3 linked regions of the Homo sapiens genome follow. The protein of the gene in region 1 interacts with the protein of each later gene in a pairwise test. Each region holds a gene or a part of one and is shown on either strand. Other genes may lie near its edges. The genes, in order: SPANXN2, BIVM and TNNI1.

Region 1 (3,302 bases):
TTTTTTCAAATGTCTGGGTCTGACTGGGAGATAAAGTATAAATGGAGGTAGTTTTTGCCCTTATTGGTATTAGGGCTTAAGGTGGCATATTTAGTTGTGACTTTTGAAAGGCAGGAGAGGAAACGAGCAGGGACAGCTTTATTTATGCCAGCTAGAAGGCATGATATCATATGGCCTGATTTCTGTCTGTCTACTGAAGTTGCCTGATAATTCCAACTGGGGCCAGTTCTGGGGACAGCTAGGGTCCCTATTGGATTATGAGCAGCATCTTGTTGGTGGAGGGTGTTCTCATGGACCTGGGCACCCATAAAGATGTGTTCCCTGTCCTCCAGGGTGAGGGTAGAGGAGAGGATGACATATATGTCATGCCAGGTAAGGTCATAAGATTTAGGGAAGTACAAGAATTCCTTGTGGAAGGAGGTTGGATCCATTGAAAAGGAGTCAAGTCTCCTTTCAATATGGGAAAACTCAGCTAGAGAGAAGGGAACTTGAATTCAGATTATGCCTTTAGCCCTCGCAACCTCCTGCAAGGGAAGGACTTTGGAAGGCCTTTGGGCATGTGCCTGGTTCCTAGCGAAAGGGGGTTGGGTGTGAGACCTGGTTTGAGGTGGAGAAGGAAGGGGGATGGAGGGCGACAGTAAGGGGGTGGAGGAGCCGGATCCGAAGGAGAAGGTGGAGGGAATGGGAGAGGGCAGGAGGCTGAAGAACGGGTGTGTTGGCCAGGTTGAAATTCAGAGGAAGAAGACTTGTCCGGAGGAAGAGGCATTTTGGGGGGTTTCTCCTTGAGGAGGAAGATTTGAAAAGGTGAACAAGATTGGCAGAGAGAGAGAGAGAGAGAGAGAGAGAGAGAGAGAGTGAGGCATGAAAGGAGATAAGCAAAGCACTTCAGATTATTTACCATTGCATTGAAGAAAGTTTTTTAGATTATGTTGAATTTGGAAGTTGAATGTTTTGTTTTTTGGAAGAGGGGAGTGAATACTCTGGATGGGAGTGACTACCCCTGAGGAAAGTGAGTACCCTGGAAGGGAGTGAGTACCCCAGGGGTGAGCGAGTACTCCAGAGAGAAGTGAATACCCCATAGGGAAGTGAGTACTTGATTCCTCCTGGGAGAAGGGACCTGGAGAGTTGGGGCAGCCCCGTACTATTCATGCTCCCCAGAGGCCAGAGCAGCCAGAGTGGCAAACGTTTTGAAGGTGTACCCTAAGAAGGGAGGCTGCAGTCACCTGGTGACTGGGGAGACCTCTCACCCAGCACTGGAATTTTTTGGAGAACGGGCAGAAATAGAGAGGAATCTGGAAAGGAGGAAGAGGGAGACTCACCCACTAATTGAAGCCCAGTGTTGGATGTGATGTCCAGAAATGGGGGTGATCCTTGTTGCAGCTGCCCGGAAACAGGAAGGAACAAAAAATAAGGTGGCTTGTTTGATCACTATCTGGAGGTTAGCCCAGGTCTGGAGAAGACTAGAGAATAAGGAGAATGGGACTGGGAACAGGGAGTACACTCAGGATCTGGAAGCAGGCCCTGGTCTAGTTTGTGCTGCTTGCTGCTTTCCAGGTTGCAAGAGAAAACTTACCCATTAGAACCCAATCACCACTCCAGGTTTTGGCACCAAAATGTTAGGTTTTGAAGGGAAGGCAAGGATGAAAGAAAGACACACAGGGGGCAGCTCAAACAGCAACACAGGAATATGGCAGACACCTATGGAAGTGGAGGACAAGCTTAATGCCAGAGCCCACCGCCGCTTACAGGCTGGGGTACTTACAGGGATGGGCAGGAGGGATCTGGGCAATGTGGGATGCTATCCGGCAGGATATTGATAAGATGTTCTTATGATCAGGTGGTTTGGCCCTTTTTCCAGTGGAATATCATTGTGGCGTTCCTTAGAACTTTGCCAAGCAAGATATGATAGGAATGTTTCTTTAGTTGGGCCTTTGTCCGCCCTGTGGTCAGGTGGTTAGGCAGGATGTTTCTCACGGCCTGAGCCCCCATGGAGTGTCTCACTTTGACCAAGGTCTGCAAAATAGCAAAGAACTTGCGAAATCGTGCAGTTTGGACTAACAGATGACCCTACCCATGCTCCTCTTCTTCTTCCCCATAGATCACTACCCTATGATTCCACCTTGTTCTTCTCTGGCACAAACCCCTTCCTCAACCTGCATTCCTTCTCATAAAGCCCCCCTTGCTATCCAGTCTCTACCCTATTCACCCAAAATAATGACTTTCTGGCCTCTCCCTGTTTTCTTATCAGATGCAGGAGGCACCGAACAGGGTCTTAGCCCCCAAACAGAGCTTGCAAAAGACAAAAACAATAGAATATCTAACAATAATAGTGTATTACTACAGGAAGCATACGAAAATAAATTCAAATCAACTGGAGAAGGACCAGTCCCGAGAGAACTCCATCAATCCAGTCCAAGAGGAGGAGGACGAAGGCCTAGACTCAGCTGAAGGATCTTCACAGGAGGACGAAGACCTGGACTCATCTGAAGGATCTTCACAGGAGGACGAAGACCTGGACTCATCTGAAGGATCTTCACAGGAGGACGAAGACCTGGACTCATCTGAAGGATCTTCACAGGAGGACGAAGACCTGGACTCATCTGAAGGATCTTCACAGGAGGACGAAGACCTGGACCCACCTGAAGGATCTTCACAGGAGGACGAAGACCTAGACTCATCTGAAGGATCTTCACAGGAGGGTGGGGAGGACTAGTCAAACATGGAGAAACCAAATTGGACAAATCCTCACTACCAATGGCGATGATTACAATAAAATCAAGTTTGAGGAGCTGATGACCGTGTATATCTCTGCCTGTTGTCTGATGGTGGGAAGGAAGGGAAGGGAAGAGGTAGGCATTTGAGAAGGGAAGGATATGAGATCCTGTAGGGTTGGCGGACAGACCCACAGGTTGACAGTTTCCCAGACATTGTAAATAAGGCCTGGGGGAGGACTTATTCCTAGAGACAAATTTTCTTCTTAAAATTTTATCTAACAGGAGAGGAAGAAAAGGACTTGGTGTTTGGAGCATGTGAATATGTAGAAGGGCATTTAAAAAGATCTGTATTGGCCGGGCACGGTGGCTCATGCCTATAATCCCAGCACTTTGGGAGGCCGAAGCAGACGATCTCCTGAGGTCAGGAGTTCGAGACCAGCCTGTCCAACATGGCAAACCCCAGTCTCTACTAAAAAAAAAAAATACAAAAATTAGCTGGGAGTGGTGGCAGGTGCCTGTAATCCCAGCTACATGCGAGGCTGAGGCAGGAGAATCACTTGAACACAGGAGGCGGAAGTTGTAGTGAGC
Region 2 (3,653 bases), on another chromosome or scaffold:
GATAACAATTCTCTTCCTGATTAATCCTTGAGTCCTCTTCTCAAACAGGCCTGGACCTTAGACTTCTGTGTCCAGTTTTAGCATGAATCCTGCTAAGTCAGTTTAGAGAGAACCCACAACCCTTAATATCTAATCAAGTTCCTTACGGACGTCCCCTGCCAACTCCTGATGTCTCAGCCCTTGACCTGCCTTTAGCAAGAAGTCTGTTAGGCTTTAGCAAGAATCCCCATACCCTTGACCCTCTTAGTAATATCCCACCCCCAAACCCCTCGCTGTGTCCCTTGGCTATAAAGTCCCAGTTGTCTTTGTTGTCTTTGCTGTATTCAGAGCTGAGCCTGATCTCTCATTCCTACTACAATAGGCCTTTCACAAGTTTAAAATAAAGTCTTCTCACCCTATTAACAAGTGTCAGAATAATTTTTTCTTTAACAATGTATTACAATTTTCTGATTTACACAGTCAAAAGATTGTAACAATTTTAAAAATGGAAATTGCTAAATAGTACAAATTATTTAATTAGCACATAACTAAAATAATCCTTGAGATCAACTCCATTAATATTTCTGTTATAAACAAGACTATTTTATAGCAGAACTTTGTCACTTCAACAGTCTATTTTCCTGCCATTATATGTCACCACACAGGTCTAACATCAAATATTCTCAAATCCTTACATTCCTTCTTAGGAAGAAAACTGCTAACTCCATGCTGCTTCCTTAGAGTTTTACTAGCATGTGCGCGTACACACGCACATACATACACACACAAACACACACACACACCACGGACCCAAACAATACAATGTGTTAGAGTAGTGTTTGTGATATACCTTAAAGTTCTAAAGGTTCTACATAAAAAGGTTAGAAGAGGTAAAATATTAAACTGCTTATTAAAAAGTGCCCTACAGATTACATGCAAGTAACAGACTGTGCTGAGGGTTTACATAATGTCCCAGGAAGCTAAACAGGCAGTCTTTGAGACGAACTCTAAACCGTGTGTGTGTATGTGTGTGTGTGCATGTGTGTATGTGTGTATGTAAATCTTCTATATGTTTACCTACCAGTTTCTCCTGCTGTTTTATTCTTCCCATGAGGCTTATATAGAACATAAGAGCATCCTTTTACATGGAAGTGGTCATTAATTTGTCTAAACCACCTGAAAGTAACAAGAAGATTTGTTCATGGCAACAATTCTACAACAAAGATGGCATTATTCCAATTCTAAAGAAATTCAGGCATAGCCCAAAGTTGGTATACCTATGAGAGGTTGAAGCCCAGCAGCTGGATACATGGTTTACTATCAACACACATCTACATCATTATTATTTTGCAAAACTAGAAACACGATATTGCCTCTAAGAGGGTCTTCATACCTCATAAGTGTTGTATTCCCCGTGAAAGGACCAAACCTAATATCTTCAAATGGAGGTTGAAAGCCCAGAATATGTAAAGCTTCTTCTTGGGTAATAGGTGGAAGGCTACAAAAGAAACATTCATTGCCTTTCATTTTTCAATTCCAGTCATACGCAAATACAGCCTGTCTCAATGTTAATATGCTTGTCTGATTTGCAAATAATATTAGTAATATTTTTCATTATTTTATTTTATTTATTTTTTTAGAGACAGGTTCTCACTCTGTGGCCCAGGCTGGAGTGCAGTGGCGTGATCATAGCTCACTGCAGCCTTAAACTCCTGGGCTCAAGTGATCCTCTTGCCTCAGTCTCCTAAGAGACTAGAAATACAAGTACATGCCATTGTGCCTGGCTAGTTGTTTTTATTTTTTTACTTTGTAGAGGTGGGGTCTTGCTTTGTTGCCCAGGCTGGTCTCAAACTCCTTGGCTTCAAGCAATACTCCCGCCTTGGCCTTCCAAAGTGCTGACATTACAAGTGTGGGCCACTGTACCCAGCCCATTTTTATTTCACTGAAAATAATACATGTATATATTTTAAGCTAAAAGACTTACACTAAAATACAGCAGGGTTTTGTTAAATTTATAAAAAATCTATTCTTAAATTTTTTTCTGTTATAGAAAAAGCAACATCAAATTACTTTGGAGTTTGGGGGTACTGATAAATTGACATACTTACTTTCCAGCTCCCATTGTGCTGTATAAGAAATTCCAACAAGAAATTAATGAAGAGATGCCACAAGAAGTCTTATACTGTGGTCGGCTTATGCAGTACCTGAGAACACAAAAGACTGTTTTCTTCACTTGAATGAACACAAAATATGCATGCTAGAAATAGAAAACTCATGGCAATTAAAGGTGTTAATATAATGAAAACTTTGATCCCCTAAGTCAATGTAAAATCTTCCATATTCACTTATTAATCATGTCATAAATATAAAATAACAATAAATCACCTGCTTTAACAAAAATAGCTAAGTATGACTAACTGCCAGTTAAAGTGGATGTTATCCAAACCAATGGGAAAAAAAATAATGATATATCGCCTATTAAAAGTTTGGTGTAAACTCCTGGTTGAACTGCTTACATGATTATTTGCAACTTCAGAAATACAAGAGAAACAAACCATTGCCCCCACGTGTCAACTTCTCAGAGAGATTCTTCAACCCAAACAAAAATTCATCCATTTATTACCCACTGTGTCCATCTAAAATCCTTGGGCAAGAAGCCATGAAGCAGTGCTTCTCCTGTCACAGAGAAGTTTAAAAGTGAAATACAAAATCCTTCCATGGCATGATTCAGTGGCACTAAGCAATCCAGACAATTTTCCAAACTGTCATGATTCAAGAGAAGAAACTGGGGCAAATGTGAACAGAAGGAGAAAGAGACAGACTATTTATTTATTCTGTTTTAAGAAGAAATACGTTTGCTTTCTCTTTTTTTTTTTTTTTTTTTTTTTTGAGACAGAGTCTCACTCTGTCGCCCAGGCTGGAGTGCTGTGGTGCAATCTTGGCTCACTGCAACCTCCACCTCCCGTGTTCAAGCAATTCTCCTGCCTCAGCCTCCCGAGTAGCTGGGACGACAGGCGTGCGCCACCACAACCAGCTAATTTTTGTATTTTTAGTAGAGACAGGGTTTCACTATGTTGGCCAGGATGGTCTCAATCTCTTGACCTTGTGATCTTCCACCTCAGCCTCCCAAAGTGCTGGATTACAGACGTGAGCCACTGCACCTGGCCAAATGTGAAGCTAGTCAAGCGTGGTTGTGGGGGGAGATAATGTTAAATCAGCTTAACAATAACCCACAACACTCGTTGGCCTTCAAATGATCTTCTCCTAACTGCTTTCTAAAGAAGGTGCTAAGAAGTAGCCACAATGAAACAAAGAAACAAGCCCTATCATCACTAAGAGCAACTTTAGTGTGGTCTAAAAATTAATTACAAAATGAAAAATTAGACATATGCATGTGTACATATATGCATTTGTATATGTATATATACTATGCATATTGGCACACATACAAGTTAACCATGACCCTTCAATATTTTTTTTTAAGTTCCAGGGTATACATGCAGGATGTGCAGCTTTATTACATAGATAAATGTGTGTCATGGTGGTTTGCTGCATCTATCAACCCATTACCTAGGTATTACACTCTGTGTGCATTAGCTATTTTTCCTGATACTCTCCTGTCCCCGGTTCCCACCCCGCGACAGGGCCCAGTGTGTGTTGTTCCCTCCCTACGT
Region 3 (3,653 bases), on another chromosome or scaffold:
CTCTCTCTTCTTGCCCACAGAGAAAACCCAAGATCACTGCCTCCCGCAAACTCTTGCTGAAGGTGAGGCTGGGGGCTGGCTGTGGGGGGATGCCCAGTGGGAGGCAGAGGGGCAGCAGAGCAGACTCTGAAGGGATGTGGAGGATTATGGCAAGGAGAAAGGAAGGAGGCCAGAGTGAGGATGATGAGGGGCAGGAGTCCAGCATTGCTGGAGCCAGTGCCAGGCTCAGGTGATCAGTAGGTGGGATCCTCGAGTATGGATTCTGGCATCCGCCTGTGGTCCCTAGAGTAGGTGGTGACCAGCTTCAGAGTGGGAAGCTACTCATGCAGGCAGAGGGACTTCCTTTATTTTCATATGTGTTTCTCTCTTTGGAGTTTTGTGGGTCAAAACAGACAGTAAGTGGATAAGAGGAAGACTGTCCGGGGAAAACAAGTTCCAGGGCTTGAGGAACATTGTGTGCAGCCACTGGGTGTACCCTCATGGTGGCCTGTCCATGGCTGCTGCATACACTTCTACACTGGACAGTGGTCTCAGAGTTGGCCCAGGCTGTGGCTGCCCTCCCCTCATTCCCTGATGCCGGGTGGGAGATGTGAGGCCCCCAGCTCAGCAGGTGTGTCCTGTCCAGAGCCTGATGCTGGCCAAGGCCAAGGAATGCTGGGAGCAGGAGCACGAGGAGCGCGAGGCTGAGAAGGTGCGCTACCTGGCAGAGCGCATCCCCACGCTGCAGACCCGTGGCCTGTCCCTCAGTGCCCTGCAGGTTAGCCTGGCAGGTGGGGCGGGGCAGGGTGGGGCTGGAGGTGCTGTGTGGGTGGCTCCAAGGACCAGGCGGCAGGAGCCTGAACTAACACCAGCTCAAGGCTCCATAATTTACAGGGCACTCCTCCCTTACATGGTCTCATTTAATCTTCACAACCACCTGTGAGGTGGGAACATTAGATTCCATTTTACGGGCACTGAACTGAGCATCAGAGGGGAGGCGTGACTTGCCTGGGCTGGGCGGCCCAGCTTCACAATCAGCCAGTGTGGTGGCATGGAGTGGGGAGGCGGCCGGGGTTGGGAGAAGCCCCACTTTTCCAAGGACTTGTCTACCCTTTCCTAGAATTTGGTCTTCAATGTTTTCAGAACACTGGTAAATTGGTTAAATGCCAGTGATTATAGAGAAAAGAGACTGGAAGGAAGTATATCAAAATGTTACTAAGTATCCCTGGGTGGTGGCATCACTAGGTATTTTAATTTTTATTATTTTTGTTTAATACATAGTTTTCAAAATGTCTAAAATTAACGCATTACTTTTATCATAAGAAAACTATTTTATTTTGCTGGGCACAGTGGCTCATGCCTGTAATCCCAGCATTTTGAAAGGCGGAGGCAGGAGGATTACTTGAACCCAGGAGTTCGAGACCAGCCTGGGCAACATAGTGTGAGACCTTTTCTTTATACAAAGTTTAAAAAAATGAGATGGGAGGGTCACTTGAGCCCAGGAGGTTGAGGCTGCAATGAGCCATGATGAAAGAATACTTTTTTTTTTTTGAGGCAGAGTCTCATTCTGTTGCCCAGGCTGGAGTGCAGTGGCGTGATCTTGGCTCACTGCAACCTCTGTGTCCCAGATTCAAGTGATTCTCCTGTCTCAATCTACTAAGTAGCTAGGACTACAGGTGCACACCACCATGCCTGGCTAATTTTTGTATTTTTAGTAGAGACAGGGTTTCACCACATTGGTCAGGCTGGTCTTGAACTCCTGACCTCAGGTGATCCCCCACCTTGGCCTCCCAAAGTGCTGGGATTACAGGGATGAGCCACCGTGCCCAGCCAAGGATACTAGTTTTTTGTTTGTTTGTTTGTTTTTTTGAGACGGAGTCTCGCTCTGTCACCAGGCTGGAGTGCAGTGGTGTGATCTCAGCTCACTGCAACCTCCGCCTCCTGGGTTCAAGCGAAGGAATACTATTTTTTAAGAAATCATGACATTCAGACAGGAGAACAGAGGGCATACCCTTTGAGCTATTGCCCGTCATGAGCCTCAGAGTGGAGGAGACTGTCAGCTCCTCTCTGGATCCCAGGTCTTGCAAAGGGGCTGGGGAGAGGGTCAAGGGCTGGAAACTGATGTCTCTGTTCCCCTCTTCTTCACACCTGCATGATCCATCTGCGGCCCCCAGGACCTGTGCCGGGAGCTGCACGCCAAGGTGGAGGTGGTGGATGAGGAGCGATACGACATTGAGGCCAAATGCCTCCACAACACCAGGGAGGTGAGTCTAAGGAAGGGAAGGGGCATGGCCATAATGGGTTGGGCAGGGGCATGGGCACGGATGCAGCAGCCATGGGAGGTCCCCTCCTTCCACAGGGCCTAGGAAGGGGCCACTTAAGCAGGAAACTTTGGTTTGTCTGCCCTAGCCCCATAGGGCTGGAGATGGGTAGAGTGGATAATCACACATGAAAAGTACAAACTTCCTCCCTACCTGCCATGTGGGCTCATCAGCCTAACAGAAGCTGCTCTCTTTATCCACCCACACAAATAATCATATGCCTGTTAATAACGTCTTACCTTTGTGAAGTGCTTTCATGTTCGTTATAGCCTTTGATCCTCCTTATAGGCCTGTGGATGAAGTAGGGGCTATTATCTGCACCTTGCAGAGGAGAACACTCAGGATCAGAGAGGCCAAAGACTTGTCCTAGGTTGCACAGTGGTGGTCCTGGGACCAGTGCTGGTCTCTGGCTTCCACTCCGGTGCTCTGTGCTCCCTTAGCATGGGGTGTGGGAGGATTAGCTCCACCCAGACCCTGCTCCAGTGGGGAGGGGCAGAGCAGAGAAGGACAGGGCTCCTTTGGGGCATTTGTCCAGGCAGTGAGGAGGGGGCAGGGAGGGAGCACAAGCCACTTCTCTCCTTCCCACTTCTGCCCACCAGGAATTATATGTGGGGTCACCAAGCTCCTAAGAACTCCCCCTAGAGATCACACCCTGGGAATTCCTCCAGGGGTCTAGGACCTGTAAGTTTATCACCCTGCTGGACCAAGGCTGTGAGCTGCTTTGAAGGCTCACTGGGGAGGAATAAGTTAGAAGCAGGGATGAGGCTGCAGGAACAAGAGGAAGCAGCCCTGCACTCCAAATAGGGCTTCCAAATCAGACAAGTCTCAGTCTGGTGGAGCCGCCCCTTTTATTCAAGGCTATAGTGTTAGCAACGGCTAATAGGCTTTATCTGTCCACTTAACCATCCGTTTATCAGCAAATGTGCAGTGGTTATTTGCAAAGGGATGGGTGGGTCTGACTGTCCTAGAGCAGGGATCTCCAACTCTTGGGCTGTGGACCAGTACCTGTCCGTGGCCTGTTAGGAACTGGGCCACACTGCAGCAGGTGAGCAGTGGGCAAATGAGCATTCCCGCCTGAGCTCTGCCTCCTGTCAGATCAGCGGCGGCATTAGATTCTCACAGGAGTGTGAACCCTATTGTGAACTGTGCATGTGAGGGATCTAGGTTGCACGCTCCTTATGAGAATCAAACTCATGCCTGATGGTCTGAGGTGGAACAGTTTCATCCTGAAACCACCCCACCACCTCTCCGTGGAAAAAGTGTCTTCCACAAAACCGGTCCCTGGTGACAAAAAGGTTGGTGACTGCTGATAGGTCTGGCTTCAAGGGTGGACAATTTAAGGTGTATCTCTGG

What was found.
Region 2: the proteins of SPANXN2 (region 1) and BIVM interact in binary tests that used the Homo sapiens proteins (3 or more experiments, as listed by UniProt).
Region 3: the proteins of SPANXN2 (region 1) and TNNI1 interact in binary tests that used the Homo sapiens proteins (3 or more experiments, as listed by UniProt).

What each region holds. Positions count from the first base shown.
Region 1 is NC_000023.11:143,711,446-143,714,747, reverse strand, and holds the end of SPANXN2 (sperm protein associated with the nucleus on the X chromosome N2), read left to right. Parts: intron 1-2,248; coding exon 2,249-2,713; 3' UTR 2,714-2,793; downstream 2,794-3,302.
Region 2 is NC_000013.11:102,819,567-102,823,219, reverse strand, and holds part of BIVM (basic immunoglobulin-like variable motif-containing protein), read right to left. Parts: intron 2,184-3,653; coding exon 2,088-2,183; intron 1,478-2,087; coding exon 1,373-1,477; intron 1,156-1,372; coding exon 1,061-1,155; intron 1-1,060. Other genes in the region: BIVM-ERCC5 protein, read right to left, coding at 1,061-1,155, 1,373-1,477, 2,088-2,183.
Region 3 is NC_000001.11:201,411,622-201,415,274, reverse strand, and holds part of TNNI1 (troponin I, slow skeletal muscle), read left to right. Parts: intron 1-20; coding exon 21-62; intron 63-625; coding exon 626-757; intron 758-2,153; coding exon 2,154-2,243; intron 2,244-3,653. UniProt on the Homo sapiens protein: Troponin I is the inhibitory subunit of troponin, the thin filament regulatory complex which confers calcium-sensitivity to striated muscle actomyosin ATPase activity.